2 linked regions of the Homo sapiens genome follow. The protein of the gene in region 1 interacts with the protein of each later gene in a pairwise test. Each region holds a gene or a part of one and is shown on either strand. Other genes may lie near its edges.

Region 1 (3,827 bases):
TACTTAATACAGCCATATTTTTTATTATATGGAATTGTAGCCCTGTTATCCTTGTATCATGGCTTATAATATTGGTTGGTTTTACTTTTTTAAGTATTTCCATCTGTTATATTTAAGACTTCATTCACAATGATTTTTAATCCAAGGTAATTTGTTAAGTTATTGATAAATAGGTCTGTCCCAGAGAAATAATAATATAGCTTTATAGAATTTTCCATCTTGTATTAAAATAATCACATGTACATCATTGTAACTCAGTCCATAACATAAGATTTTGTACAACAATTTCTTTTTGTGTGCTGGCATCATTAAGGTTTAGTCTGCCCAGATCACCTATTAGTACCTAATTTATATATTCTGAATTAAAATTATCTGTTAATTTAAAAACATTTTATCTATTGTCTTTCAAAATAGTATTAACTGAGGGTTTTTTTGTGTGTGTTTTTCTATTTTGCTTGGCTTTTTGAACATTACTGGACTCTCGTTTTAGAAGGTAATTACGTTTTCTTTTTCTCGAAAATTGTATTTCTCTGCTGTAAATGATTCTCAAAAAGGTAACATGTTTTTCTTTTATAGGAAAAACCTTTCAGCTCTACTCTCACAATCTTATAGCTTTGTTTGAACATGCCAAAAAACCAGGATTAGCTGCCCATATTCAAACTCACAGGTTTCCAGACCGAATACTACCAAGGTACAAAATATCATTTTGATTCTACTGAATGAGGGGAATTAGTGTTTATTTTAAAAATAGCCCGTATTTCTTGCCCAGTAAAAAACTATGTCTTAATTTTCAAAGGTAGTTTAAACTAAAGTGTATTATATCTGGAAAAGCTGAACGTTTTCTGAACTTGACCATGAGAATCAACTGTGGAAGTTTTATAATACAGACTGTCAGGCCCTTCCTCAGTCCTATAAGATGAGATAGTGTGGAGTTAGGATCCAAGACAGTTTTTTAAGCTCCTTTCTGTCTGATTCTGATGCAACTGATTTACAAATCATTGTGTTGTAACCACTACTGTAGAGTGCATTTATATCGTCTTACGTTTTCAGAAAATTCGCTTTAACAACAAAGATTCCTGATACAAAAGGCTGCCACAAATGTTGCATAGGTGAGTAAATGGTATTTCTCAAACTGAATGGTTAGAACTTTTAACATCTTTATAATTATCTGAAGAGTCGTATGGAATCAAATAGGAAGGAGGGTAGGTTTTTAAAATTTGTGTTTAGTAAGAAGTTAAGCTGCCATTGAAGTACAAGAATATAGACAGACATGGCATAGAAATGCTTAGAGATAATAACCTTAGCGTTTTCTCAGAGCATAGTGTTCCTAGAGTTTTTTAACCATAGTCCCTGAGGCTGTATCTTTGCTAATATTCTAACTTTCATTTATTTAATATTTGCCATCTACCAGTTACCACCCATGTTTTATGAACATGTTTACAGGAGTTGAGCCAACTATGCAGTTAGAGGGAACAGTTCACACAAGAACACCCTCACTTATGATACCAATTGCAAGTTAGGGGATTCCCAAAACTACCCCCAGAATAAAAAAATTCACTAGAAGGTATCACGGAACTGGAAGCAGTTATACTCATAGTTACGATTACAATTTAGAACAGGGAAAAAATATAGATTTAAATCATTACCGTTTAGAACAGGGAAAGAATATAGATTAAAATCATTACCGTTTAGAACAGGGACAGAATATAGATTAAAATCAGCCAAGGGAAGAAGTACATAGGGCAGAGTCCAGGAAAAATACCAAACATGGAGCTTCTGTTGTCCTCTCCCTATGGTTAATGGATGGCGTTACTTTTCCAGCATTGGTATGTGGCAGAACACACAACCATTGCCAACCACTGCCAACCACAAGCTTATTCGAGCCTCGATGTCCAGAGTTTTTATTGGGGCTTCATCACAAAGGCATGATTGATTGACCACCTTGCTGATCTCAGTATGCAGCCCCACTAAAGGTCATCTGATGTTACATGACCCAAAGCCCCCACCCAAAATCACATTTTTTGTATTTCTGGCATGATTGATTGACCACCTTGCTGATCTCAGTATGCAGCCCCACTAAAGGTCATCTGATGTTACATGACCCAAAGCCCCCACCCAAAATCACATTTTTTGTATTTCTGGCATGACCAGCCCTCACATTAAGACTATCTAGTGCAGCCAGTCCCCACCCTGAATCATTATTGTTATATTATCCAGTGACCAGAGTCCCCCAGACAAAGACAGTCCTGTCAAGCATGACATTCCAAAGGCTTAGCAATTACCTCCCAGAAGCAGGACAGAGACCAGACCTCTTTTTTGGGTGAGGTTAAGTTCTTTACTACATAATTATCTCATTTAACCCTTAAACAACTCCATAATACTGATTGTGTCACTAGTAAGTAACAGAGCTTAGGAATCAGATTCAGGTTCAATGACTTCAGATCTTAAGTTCCTAACTTCCTATTTATTCTTTTGTTTGATCAATGAATTTACACATTGATCTTTGTGCCACATAATAGTTTCACAGCATAGTCCATACTGTAAAACAAAAATGTTTAACCACAAATGTGCTATAAATATTATTTTTCTAGGGAGAATCATGTCAATATCTATTATCAGATTCCCAAGATCTGTGATGCACAAAAGGCCTAGAAACTTGGAATCTAAGATAAAAACTCATAAATAATACTTTAGAGTTTAATGCAAATAACTATTCTTATAATCAATGATTATAATTATTAATGGAAATCAAATTTGGGAGAAGGAAAGAGCAATATGAATTTTTATAGATTTGAGTCAAGATTACATCATGATAAATTAATACATACAAGATGAATTATTTTCATCTTAAGTAGACATCTGTACACTGCTATACCAAAACGAGGTGCATTTTAGTTGCCTCCTAGACCTTGTCAGAACTCATTCTTTGAGTTTACTAAGAAACAACTTTTTGGGGAGGCCAAGATGGGAAGATCGGTTGAGTCCAGGAGTTCAAGACCAGCCTGGGAAACATAGTGAGACCCCATCTCTTAAAAAAAAAAAAAATTGAAAAATTAGCTGGGCATGGTGGCATACACCTATAGTCTCTGCTACTCAGGAGGCTGATGTGGGAGGATTGCTTGAGCCTGGGAGATTGAGGCTGCAGTTAGCTATTACTGTGCCACTGCATTCTAGCCTGAATGACAGAGCAAGACCCTGTCTCTTTAAAAAGAAAGAAGGAGGACGGGAGGGAGTGAGGAAGGGAAAAAAACACCTTTTTAGGTTGCATGTTAGGTTGTTATTGTGCTTGTCAAAAGTTCTTATGTTTAACAACCTAGTATATGCAAGTTGTTTAGAAGTAAACATATATAATTTAAAATTGAGATAAGAAAGTAAAACGGAAAAGGCAATGAAGCCAAAAGAAAAGACACAGTCTTTTTTTATTTTCTGCCCACTCTTGTCATCCTGGTTAACAGATACAATGAAAGTATTCAGTATTTTGAGTGTGTCTGGGTTTTTTGTTTGTTTATTTCTTTCCAGTCAGAAACCCTTACACGGGACATAAATACCTCTGTGGAGCTTTACAGTCTGGAATTGTTTTACTTCAGTGGTATGAGCCAATGCAGAAATTCATGTTGATAAAGGTATATATTATTTTGTTCACATTTTTTTCCTTTAGAAAACACTAGTGTATAACTGAAGCTAAAATTAGCAGATCCCAATACTACTATCTAGGGTCAGAACATTTATAGTTATTTGTAGTTGTTTATTTGATTTAGAGGTTTTTGTGTTCTTAGGATTTACTCTTTAACTGATAATAAACTTCCAGAACCATCAGTCATAAAGAT
Region 2 (3,827 bases), on another chromosome or scaffold:
TGTCGGCAACATGGCAAACTTTGCCTATACAAAAAATTACCTCGTCATTGTGATGTGTGCCTGTCGTCCCAGCTACTCAGGAGGCTGAGGTAGAAGGATCTGTTGAGCCTAAGAGTTCGAGGCTGCAGTGAGCTATGATTGCAACACTACACTCCAGCCTGGGCAACAGAATGATACCCTGTTTCAAAAAAAAAAAAAAAAAAAGAAAAGAAAAGAAAAAAGAAAAAAATTAGTTTCAATAGGATATGCTGTCTTTTAAAAATTACATTCAGCAACTTGTTGCTGATAATTAAAATTCGCTGAGATTTATTTCTGTATAGAGTGTGCATTCTAGAAACTTACTAAAAATATTATGTATGCACAAAATACATAAAAGAATTGCACAATGAATTCAAATAATGATGGAACCAGTATTGGGAATAAGATAACTGCCTTACTTTTCCTTATACTTTCTCAACCTGGGTATGCATCCTCATCAGTGTGTTTTATTTTTGCATGTTTTTTATGCAAATGATAACCGATATGTGATATTTTATATCGGATTTTATTTTAACTCAGTTATGAACCTTATATGGAATGATAGTTAATTCACTTTCTTATTTAATGGATTTTATTATTTAGAACAGTGGTTGTTTCCCCAAAACATTGGGCAGATAATCCACAGAGTTCCAGCATTTTTATTCCAGGCTCATAGTTCCCCCCACCACCCTTTTTTTTTTTTTTTTTTTGAGATAGAATCTTGCTCTGTTGCCCAGGCTGGAGTGCAGTGGCATGATCTCGGCTCACTGCAACCTCCGCCTCCTGGGTTCTAGCAATCCTTCTGCCTCAGCCTCCCGAGTAGCTGGGAATACAGGCGCACACCACCACACCCAACTAATTTCTGTATTTTTTAGTAGAGAGAGGGTTTCACCATATTGACCAGGCTGGTCTCAAACTCCTGACCTTGTGATTCGCCCACCTCAGCCTCCCAAAGTGCTGGGATTACAGGCGTGAGCCACCGTACCCAGCATAGTTCCCCCTATTCTAAACATCTTGACTGGCCAGGTGCTGAGCCTTATACCTGTAATCCTACCACTTAGGTAGGCCAAAGCAGCAGGACAGCTTGGACTCGGGAGTTGGAGGCCAGCCTAGGCAACATAGCAAGACCCTGTTTCCAAAAATAAAAAAAATAAAAAATAATAAAAAATAAAAAATAAAAACTGTTTGAAACCAAAGAAACCATATTGACTTTGTGTAGTGTATCCTGCAACTGATGCAAGAATATATTACATGTGAACATGATGGAAATTGAAGAAGCCAATGTTATTATTACCTAAAGTCCATCTTTTACATTAGGCTTCACTCTTTGTGTTCTGTGGTTTAAGACAACTATGTGTCATGTATCCACCATCACAGTCTTATAGAGAAGTGTTTTACTGCCCTCAAAATCCCCTGTGCTCCTTCTAATCATACCTCTCCCCTCCCTCTTTTGCCACCCCTATTTATCCCTGGCAACAAATGATGATGTTCCTGCCTCTAGAGTTTTGCATTTTCCAGAATATCACATATTTGGAATGATACTGTAAGTGGCCATTTCAGACTTGCTTCTTTCATGTAAAAATATGCTTTGAAGGTCTCTAAATACCTTTGTTGCTTGACAACTCATTTATTTTTTATTTTTCTTTCTTTATCTAAAGATTTTTGTTTTGTGAGAGACAGGGTCTCAAACTCCCCAGCTCAGGTGATCCTCCCGCCTCAGCTTCCCAAAGTGCCTGAATTCCACTTGTGAGCCACCATGTCCGGCCACTGATTTTCTTTTTTTTTTCTTTTCTTTTCTTTTCTTTTTTTTTTTTTTTGAGACAGAGTTTCACTCTTCTTGCCCAGGCTGGAGTTCATTGGTGCAATCTTGGCTCACTGCACCCTCCACCTCCCAGGTTCAAGCAATTCTCCTGCCTCTGCCTCCCGAGTAGCTGGGATTACAGGCATGCACCATCACGCCCGGCTGATTTTGTATTTTTAGTAGAGACGGGGTTTCTCCATGTTGAGGCTGGTCTCGAACTCCTGACCTCAGGTGATCCACCCGCTCGGCCTCCCAAAGTGCTGGGATTACAGGCGTGAGCCACCGCACGCGGCCAGGGCCACTCATTTTCTTTCATCACTGAATAACATTCTATTGTACGGATGTTACCATAGTTTGTTTCTTTATTCACCTGTTGAAAGGCTCATCTTGAGCCTGGTGTCACGCCTCATCCCTGAGTTCCCAGCACATGGGAGACTGAGATGAGATTGCTTAAGGCCAGAAGTTAGAGAACAGCCTGGTAGATACCGTGTGAGACCTTATCTATTTTTTTTTTTTAAGACTCACCTTGTTTGATTCTAGTTTTTGGCAGTTATGAGTAAGGCTGCTAAAAACGTTTGTGGGAGGACTTTCGTGTGGACATCAGTTTTTAGTTCATTTGAGTCAATATGTAGGAATGAGACTACTGAATCAGTAAGACCATGCCTATTTTCTTCAGAGCTCCGCAGACTGTCTTCCAAATTGGCTGTAGAATTTTCCATTCACATCCCTAGTGAAGGAGAGTTCACTGTCTCCAGCATTTGGAAGTGTCAGTGTTTTGGATTTTAGCTACTCCACCAGGTATTTGCTGGTGCTTCATTGTTGTTTTCCTTTTTTAATTTTTTTTCCTTTTTTTTTTTTTTTTGGAGACAGAGTTTCAAATCTTGTTGCCCGGACCGGAGTACAATGGTGCGATCTCAGCTCACTGCAGCCTCTGCCTCCCGGGTTTAAGCGATTCTCCTGACTCAGACTCCCGAATAGCTGGGATTACAGGTGTATGCTGCCACACATGGCCACTGTTTGTATTATTAGTAGAGACAGAGTTTCACTGTGTTGGCCAGGCTGGTCTCAAACTTTTGACCTCAGGTGATCAACCTGCCTCAGCTTCCCAAAGAGCTGGATTACAGGCATGAGCCACTGCGCCCGGGCTGTTTTCATTTGCTCTTTAATAACATGTAATGTAGAGCATCCTGTCATATGTTTGTTTGCCATAATTACATTCTTTAGCGGGAGGTATACTTGGAAAGATTGGGCTTTTTTTTTTTTTTGAGACTGAGTCTGGCTCTGTCACCCAGGCTGGAGGGCAGTGGCGTAATCTTGGCTCACTGCAACCTCTGTCTCCCGGGTTCCAGTGATTCTCCTGCCTCAGCCTCCTGAGTAACTGGGATTACAGGCTCATGCCACCAGGCCCGGCTAATTTTTGTATTTTTACTAGAGACGGGGTTTCACCATGTTAGTCAGGCTGGTCTCAAACTCCTGACCTCGGTGATCCACCCGTCTCTGCCTCCCAAAGTGCTGGGATTAAGGCATGAGCCACCGCACCCAGCGTTTTGCTTATTTTTTGATTGGTTGGTTTTTTTCTTATAGAATTTTAGGAGTTCTTCATACCTTTTGGGTACCAGTTCTTGATCAGATAGCTGTTCTGCAAATATTTTGTCCCAGTCTGCCGCCTGTCTTTTTATTCTGTTAACAGTCTTTTCCAAAACATTTTTGTTTTGAATGAAGTCCAATTTATTGATTTTCTCATTCACAGATCATGCTTTTTGTGTTGTGTGTGAAATCTTATTGCCAAATCAAGGTCGTCTTGGTTTTGACAAGTGTGAAATTGTGAGTTTTGCATTTTCCATATAAGTAAACGATTCATTAGGAAGTAGTTTTGTAAAAGGTGCAGTTCTGTGTCTAATTCATTTCTTTGCATTTGCTAATTCAGGTGTTTCAATACCATTTGTTTTGTGCCACCATGTCTAATTTTTTATTTTATTATGGAGACGGGTATCTCCTTATGTTGCCC

The links.
Region 2: the proteins of MAP4K5 (region 1) and ZNF440 interact in a two-hybrid assay, tested with the Homo sapiens proteins (one large-scale study listed by BioGRID and IntAct).

The regions. Positions count from the first base shown.
Region 1 is NC_000014.9:50,434,758-50,438,584, reverse strand, and holds part of MAP4K5 (mitogen-activated protein kinase kinase kinase kinase 5), read left to right. Parts: intron 1-490; coding exon 491-493; intron 494-576; coding exon 577-691; intron 692-1,050; coding exon 1,051-1,109; intron 1,110-3,519; coding exon 3,520-3,623; intron 3,624-3,827. UniProt on the Homo sapiens protein: May play a role in the response to environmental stress. Appears to act upstream of the JUN N-terminal pathway.
Region 2 is NC_000019.10:11,823,998-11,827,824, forward strand, and holds part of ZNF440 (zinc finger protein 440), read left to right. Parts: intron 1-3,569; exon of another isoform or gene 3,570-3,827. UniProt on the Homo sapiens protein: May be involved in transcriptional regulation.